Linked DNA regions of Homo sapiens. The protein of the gene in region 1 interacts with the protein of each later gene in a pairwise test. Each region holds a gene or a part of one and is shown on either strand. Other genes may lie near its edges. The genes, in order: ZNF521 and PICALM.

Region 1 (3,826 bases):
ATCAGTAGACAATCCGACATAAACAAAAACAGCAATTACAGTTGGCAAGGATCCCATGAGTGCTAGTCAAAGTTCCAGAACTGATGGTCCAGTGAGTCTCTTCCAAAACGCCGGTTTCACGATTTCAGCACTTCTGGCAGCATCTTCCTAAAGTGAGGGCACACAAATTCATAAGATTCCACTTGGCCTTAAAAACAAAAACATCTGTTTTATGCATGAGTGGATTGTTGTCTTTTATTCATCCAGCCAAAAAAGGACAAAAAATAGGATACTGAACATAAAAGCATACATGTAAAAATGAAATTACAAAGGGATTTGAGATTAGCAAGCAGCCTTTTATAAAGCAAGCTGTTAATAATTTTTCTTTTTTGTTTTGCCAGAGTATTTCCATATCCTTTAAAAACCACTGTAGTTATCCTTACTGACAGCAGTGACGTCTAACAGTGATGACAGAATTTTTCAACTTTTTGCTTCCGGTAATTATACTTAGTTCTTTGTACTTGCTTATTTGGTCTAGTGCAAGACTCGTAGCATATTTGTAGGAGATTTCTTTTCACCTTAGAGGAACATTTGTACCTGCCTCCCTCTATTTTTAAAGGAGTCTGTTTGTGAGGGCTCGTTAGTCTGGTAAATTCTAGTTAAATACTTGTTGACATAAGTTGAAGCATATTATTAAGTATACTTGCTTGAGTTTTCATTTTGATGTAAAAGCATGTAATAAGAAGAAAGAGGTTTTGATAGTAGAAAAGAGTAGGTCTACTAAGATCAATTAAGAATTTTATTAAGGGTCTCTTTTTCCTATTAATGTGTTTTATTAATTCATCTGTCAGGATTCACATTGCTGGTTTACTGTCATTAATTCTGTTGCCACAGAATACATTCCTCATGGCTGGATTTAATGGATACTATGTTCAGTTTTTCAGTTAATTTTAAGAGGGAAAGTGATTTTAAGACTTGCAGTATTTGTTTATTTTAGCAGCTGTCTGCATCATTAAAAATGTAAATATTATCATTAAGTAAGATGTGAAAGAATGCTTTTGAATTGAATGAGATTTTGATACAAAGGCTGATATTCCACGTCAAACCTGTAGCTAAGTATTTTCCCAGATGTATTTAATTTTTTTCTTCATTGACTCCTGTTGTGCTGTCAAAGGTTAAAGTTAGTTCTAGGGGTGGGGGAGATGCATGCAACTTTCTAATTCCATTTCAATTAAATCTGAAATGTTCCTGTTTTTTGTTTGGGGACTACATGGTGCTAGGATTGCATATACCTTGTTTGTTGTAGTGAAAGCGTACTTGTCTGATTTAAAATATGTTCTGCAACAGTGTTATTACAAAGCAATTAAAACTTAAACATTAAAGTTAACATTAGTAAATTTAAATAGCTCTGTTATAGTATTAATCAAATAGTGTAAGGAAAGCTTTTAAATGGTTTAAATAATTATGCAACTCCTGGCATAAAAAGCCCGACACAAGATAAATCTCTGAAAACTAAGTAGAATCGCAGCTTTTTTTTTTTTTTTAATAAAAAACTTTAATTTTAGGCACCTTGGGCTTTTAGCATGCATCACATTCCACCTCTAGTATAAGTAATTATGCCAGTTTAGTAATTATTAGAGATGAAAGAAATTCAGTAAGATATGAATTCTTTAAAACTTCAGTAGCTTCAGTTTTAGCAGGGATAATGATCAAGCAGCAGTTATCCTGCTGCCTGGGGACCCTGCCACAGCTACAAGCACTGGGCTGATCTTGTGGGTATCATTATTATGGCAGCACATACTATAGTTAGTATTTCTACTCTAGTTGTCAGATTGCAGAGGTTTATAATTTGGTCATTAAACAAATTTAGATTCCAATATGACTGTGTAAAAACTCCCCTTTCTTAGAACACTTTTTAAAAAAAGATTAAGTTTAAAAATTATTATTTTGGGGCAGCATCTCTTTTAATTCTATGGGATAGTAAATGCTTTGAAAAATCCTGAAAAGAAAAAAAATGTGTATGCCTGTCATTTTTATGTGTGTATGTGTTAGGTACGTGTTCATTTTGAATCTTATTTTTAAATAAAGATGATTTGGTTTGGAAAGCATATATACTATTCCCGCATGATCATAGCTCTCCCAATCTGAGCAAGGTCAAGTGATTGACATTCAGAATATTTGTTTTCATAATAGTGCAGTTTGTTGGATTTATATTTCAATATTTTGGTTATGATAATTTTTTTGTATATGTGAAACCCAAGAGTTTACGTCCCTCAGTTATCACAACATATTGTGACACACACATACATAGTCTATATACACGGAAACATACTCTAAACCTTCTGTAGGAAATGCACTTTGTTTAGTAAGTCCATATAAGTGTTAATAATGTTTTAAGGGAAAAATTGGATTTTTTTCCAATTAAAATTGGTGTCAAAGAATAAGATTTCCTTTTTGAAATTAAAATCAGCGTATCATTGAGTCTCATTATTTCACTGACTTTATTACCTTCTCTTTCCATCTTATGATTGGCTTTTTCTCAAAATTTATTATCCCATCAGTATACTGTGAAGGATATGATATGTCAAGATGGAAACTTATTTACCTGATAGGGACAAAATCCTCATTGATTACAGACAGTTCCATATATTCATACAAAATACATTTGTTGAAACCTGTAGTGAGGTGAACAGTCCACACAGTAAACTATAACTTGCCATATTATAGGAGTTTCTGTGACCTGGAATCTAAAAAATATCACTGTGCTTTAAACTTTATATTGACTTCAAGAAACAATTTCCAGCATTTCATACGTGTTCTTAGCTAATATTCTTATCTTTCACAATAGAGCCAGATTAGGTCCAGTTAGTGCTTGAATAAGACTACATATTAATTGCTTTCAGCATTCCTAATGATTTAGGTTGTCTTAGTTGTGTTAAGTTTATCAGACATATGCTTTTTATTACCACTATCAGCACCTTTTGTCTTTCATTGATTACTTTTATACATTAAGAAAAAGAAGGCCAGGCGCGGTGGCTCACGCCTGTAATCCCAGCACTTTGGGAGGCCGAGGCGGGCGGATCACGAGGTCAGGAGATCGAGACCATCCTGGCTAACACGGTGAAACCCCGTCTCTACTAAAAATACAAAAAATTAGCCGGGCGTGGTGACGGGCGCCTGTAGTCCCAGCTACTTGGGAGGCTGAGGCAGGAGAATGGCGGGAACCTGGGAGGCGGAGCTTTCAGTGAGCCAAGATGGCTCCACTGCACTCCGGGCTCCAGCCTGGGCGACAGAGCGAGACTCTGTCTCAAAAAAAACAAACAAACAAACAAAAAAAAAACAAAGGAAAGAAAAGGAAAAAGGCTGTAAAGTCTTCACAAACATTGATCTACCAAGTACTAATGAAGCCAAAACAGAATCATTGCTTGAATGCTGATGTATGGAGTCTGAAGTTCCTATACATAGGGGGGTTTGGGGTTGTCAGTGTGCAACTTGCAAAGTTGTATGATGTTTTGCAGACATGAGGCAAGGGTTAAGAAGAACTGTGGGCTCAAGGGAGTGCATATTAATTCCTGGAAAGAGTTGAAAATAAAAACAAACAGTTATGGTCATAAGTATTGTGACTTGGATACTAGTGCTTGTAGGGAAATGGTTGCAGAGCAGGAAGAGCACGGGGGCATACTCTGATTTGCTGTGTGTTTTGGCAAGCCATTTACCCTCTGTACTCTAGGATTTAGACTTTCTGTCACTAAAATGAGGAAGCTTATTCATCATTTAACAAGTTCTGGGGGTTTTTGTTTTGTTGTGTTTTGGTTTTTGATGCCCGTCTTATCCCAGGCACTGTACT
Region 2 (3,826 bases), on another chromosome or scaffold:
CTTTTCAAGATCTCCATGTTGAGAACTTGCCCCTTAATGGGGTCAATGTTACTTAACTGGGGATTAAAGAAGGTAGCATACATGAGCAAACAAATCATAAAGCTGAAAGAAAAAAAAGAACTAAATTCAACAAACACCTACTAAGATTTCAGGGAGCAGGTAGCAACTGAGCATGCATACAGCAAGCAGTTCACGTAGTAAAACTTACACTGAGCTATTAGGCTCAGCTATTAGGAGTCAGTAGGCAGGCAGATGAGCTTTTAAGGGTGAGTTAATAAACAGCAACAACAAAGTGAAAGGAAAAAACTCACCACTCTCTATGGAACATTTAACATGTGCTAATAATGCACTGTGCTAAAACCTAGTCACCTGGGAGCATCTTAAAAACAAAAATTCTTGGGCCCCAGGCCCCACCTACTGAATCAAAACTCTAGGATTGGGACTCAGATATCTGTAGTTTAATAAACTCTCCAAATGCTTCTGATGTTAAAGTTGAGAACCACAGTCTCATCTGAAAACAAGGTTTCTCAAAAAAAGTTAAGAACTAACAGAGCCAGGATTCAAACCAGAATCTGACTTTTAAAACTACTTTAAGCCACTCTGAGGTTCAGAAAATGCCAATTGTTTTACTTTACCTGGCAATATTATATTTCCATGTTAAGTAGCTTAAATTAGACAACAAGATTATTAAAGTTAGTCTGGTAGGCTTCAATACCAAGAAACCTGGCAACTAAACTCTGTCACTGTGTTCCAGATTACAGAGTTTAAAACCAGGAAACAGATATGACAGACGTTTAATATCTAATGAAATGGTATTTTGAAATATATATCATATCCATATGTCAAAGAGCTATAAAGGGTCTTGAACCATTAGATGCCTCATAAATGTGTTTAATCATAATTTTTACACAATGAAAAGTTGGCCCAGAGATAACAGCTATATTCCTATTAGTATAAATCAGTGATTTAACTATCTTCCATTTCGTAAATACGTAAAATATAAACTCATCACTTTATCTTTAGGTATTATACCAATATCACCATTTATCGCCACCTCTTTGTGTGAATAGATTATAAAAGCATAAATAAAAGTAAACCTGAAAAGTTCTGCAAAATTTCTATTAGAAGTCTTTGAACCTACATATTCAAAGGTAACCTTAACTTCTACTCCTACCTGTTAGAAGAACTAGGGGTAGAAAATATGTCAATGGCTGGTGCAGTCATTATCCCTCCTGCTGAGGTGGATACAGGAGAGGCTGCAGTTGTTAAAGAGGTATGAGGTTTCTTTGCAAGTTCTTTTAGGCGCTGTTCCTGTTAAGAAAGGGAACTACCATAAGGATTCCAGAAACCAGATTTCTTTGTACAGCCTCTGAAAAAAGCATTTTCTAATTTGTTCTGATAGCAGATATTCTGTTTTACCTAATTCTATGTCAGGACGAAAAGTTAGACTGAGTTTCAGCCCATTAGGTAGCTATACATTTAAGACTCTAAGTCTGTGCAGAGGCCCCATTTACCTAATGAACACCTGTACTCATTTTTCGAAATAAGGAGAATGCACAAACTTACCTTTAAAGCTTTCAAACGTGCCTGTTCTTCCTCTAATGCTGCCTGCTTTTCCCTTTCATCCACTTTGGTCAGAGATAGACCAGTGCTTGCCAGGGAAGACACTGCATTGGAAAGTGTAGTTGCCCTAGGATAATTGAACAGAGATAATTTGGCTTTTTGCTAAACACTTCACATTACACCCAGGTCATGAAATGGTCTGGCAACCTTGCCATGGATAGGCACTATAATTATAAACTTAACTTCTGGATTCAAATCCAGTACTTCAGATGAAATATTCTACCTAGTGATCTACAGGATTAAAGCAATTAGAAAAATCTTGACTTAATATACACTCACTGCTTTCAGAGTAAGTGTTTGACTTTGGAAAGGGTTCACAACAGAGTGGGGCACATTGCCTCTTCCAAGCCCCAAGAGAGGAAACCAGTGCAATTGGGAAAGAGCCCACATAATCCCACAAAATCCCTGATGGGAAAAAGTGTTGAGTTTATCACAGGGAAAACCCTCTGCTAATTTACAGCCTACGTTTCGGCAGTGCCACAGGAACACCAAAACATGCATACCAGTAACACGTAACGTAAGTCTAGGTATGTTTCACCTATAACAACATCCCCAGAGGACTTCAGGTTCCTTCAAAAGAAGACTGGTTTCAATCTAGTCATCAGGCCATTTGGCATCTTTCTATGTGCTGCCCTTTTGCCAAACCAGAATTTCCTTTTTAATATACATGTACAATGTATCATTTTTCACTGGCAAGGCACCTCCTTTCCCTTTTATCAAAAACGTATCCACACTATAAACCTCAACATTAACTTTCCAAATGTTAACTCTAGGCTAAGTAAAACAAGTGGTAAAGAATTCTAACCTGAAGAACTACCTTGAGCTTTATTAATTTTCCTTTTACCACACACCAAACATCATTAGTTTCTACTCTTAAGCACGTAAAGTGGTAAAAACTACCTTTTAAATTTTATGTAATATTAGTATTATAAATAAGCCAATAAAAAGGTACAATTCAGAAGACAAAGGAAGAATAACATAGTTGTGACAGAAATGCAAGAAAACCAATAAATTTTATGATAAACATTTCAGGTAAATTGGTGCACCTGAACTACGTGGCTCTTTTTTTCGTTATTCTCTCAAATAAATGAGACTTATTGTTTTGACTGCTACTTCGAAAATCTTACTAGAAAATTCAAAGTACAAATCTAGGATTAAAAATGAGTACTAAAATCCAATAACGGCATTTCCCTTTGGAAATTATTTAAATTTTATTACTAAAAGAAAGATCAAAAGTTCTGAAACAACCAGAAAGTCTAAAAAGAACCAAAGGAAGGTTCTCACTATACAAATTCTTTCTTCATGCTGTTTTAAAAAAAGGTTCATAAGAAAACATGAGAATAACTCAAGTAATTTCTTAACCCAATACAAAAATCATGTTACCAGACTGATATGAAATGATTTCTGTTACTTTCAATTTGCTAGGTTAAATGGTCTTAGTCTGAGGAATTAGCTTAAAACATAATAAAGTGATTAAAATATAAAATATCAATAATCAACCCCATGAACTGGCATTAGGCAGAGATGATGCAATTTGATGTCAGATATTCTAGGTTTGAGTCCCAGCATTGCTACTACATACTTCACAGGGCTATTGTGAGGATTGAGCAAATTAATACGAAAGTATCTTGCAATTATAGGCCTGGCACGGTGGTTCATGCCTGTAATCCCAGCACTTTGGGAGGCTGAGGTGTGCAGATCACTTGAGTTCAGGGGTTCGAGACCAGCCTGCTCAACATGGTGAAACCCTGTCTCTACTAAAAATACAAAAATTAGCCGGCCGTGGTGGCATGCATCTGTAGTCCCACCCTTGGGAGGCTGAGGTGGGAGAATCGCTTGAACCCAGGAGGTGGAAGTTGCAAGTGAGTTGAGATTGTGCCACTGCACTCCAGCCTGGGCAATAGAGTGAGACTCTGCCTCGGGGGAAGAAAAAAAAAATGTATCTTATAACTACAAAGCACCACATAAAACAATGCATTAGCATCTTTAGGAGAAATTTTGACATCATAAACACAATTCTAAACTATGCAGTCACTGTCATTATCTTAACAGATGCTGACATTTATTGAAGGTCAGAAACAATTTCAAGAATTTGCATGTATTAATCCATTTAATCCTAATACTAATTCTATGAGGCTGATATTATGATTAAATCCATTTTATAGAAAATGAAATCAAGATATAGAGAAATTAAACAGCTTGG

The links.
Region 2: the proteins of ZNF521 (region 1) and PICALM interact in a two-hybrid assay, tested with the Homo sapiens proteins (one large-scale study listed by IntAct).

The regions. Positions count from the first base shown.
Region 1 is NC_000018.10:25,341,902-25,345,727, reverse strand, and holds part of ZNF521 (zinc finger protein 521), read left to right. Parts: intron 1-380; exon of another isoform or gene 381-476; intron 477-3,826. UniProt on the Homo sapiens protein: Transcription factor that can both act as an activator or a repressor depending on the context. Involved in BMP signaling and in the regulation of the immature compartment of the hematopoietic system.
Region 2 is NC_000011.10:85,999,469-86,003,294, forward strand, and holds part of PICALM (phosphatidylinositol-binding clathrin assembly protein), read right to left. Parts: intron 1,691-3,826; coding exon 1,567-1,690; intron 1,312-1,566; coding exon 1,175-1,311; intron 1-1,174. UniProt on the Homo sapiens protein: Cytoplasmic adapter protein that plays a critical role in clathrin-mediated endocytosis which is important in processes such as internalization of cell receptors, synaptic transmission or removal of apoptotic cells.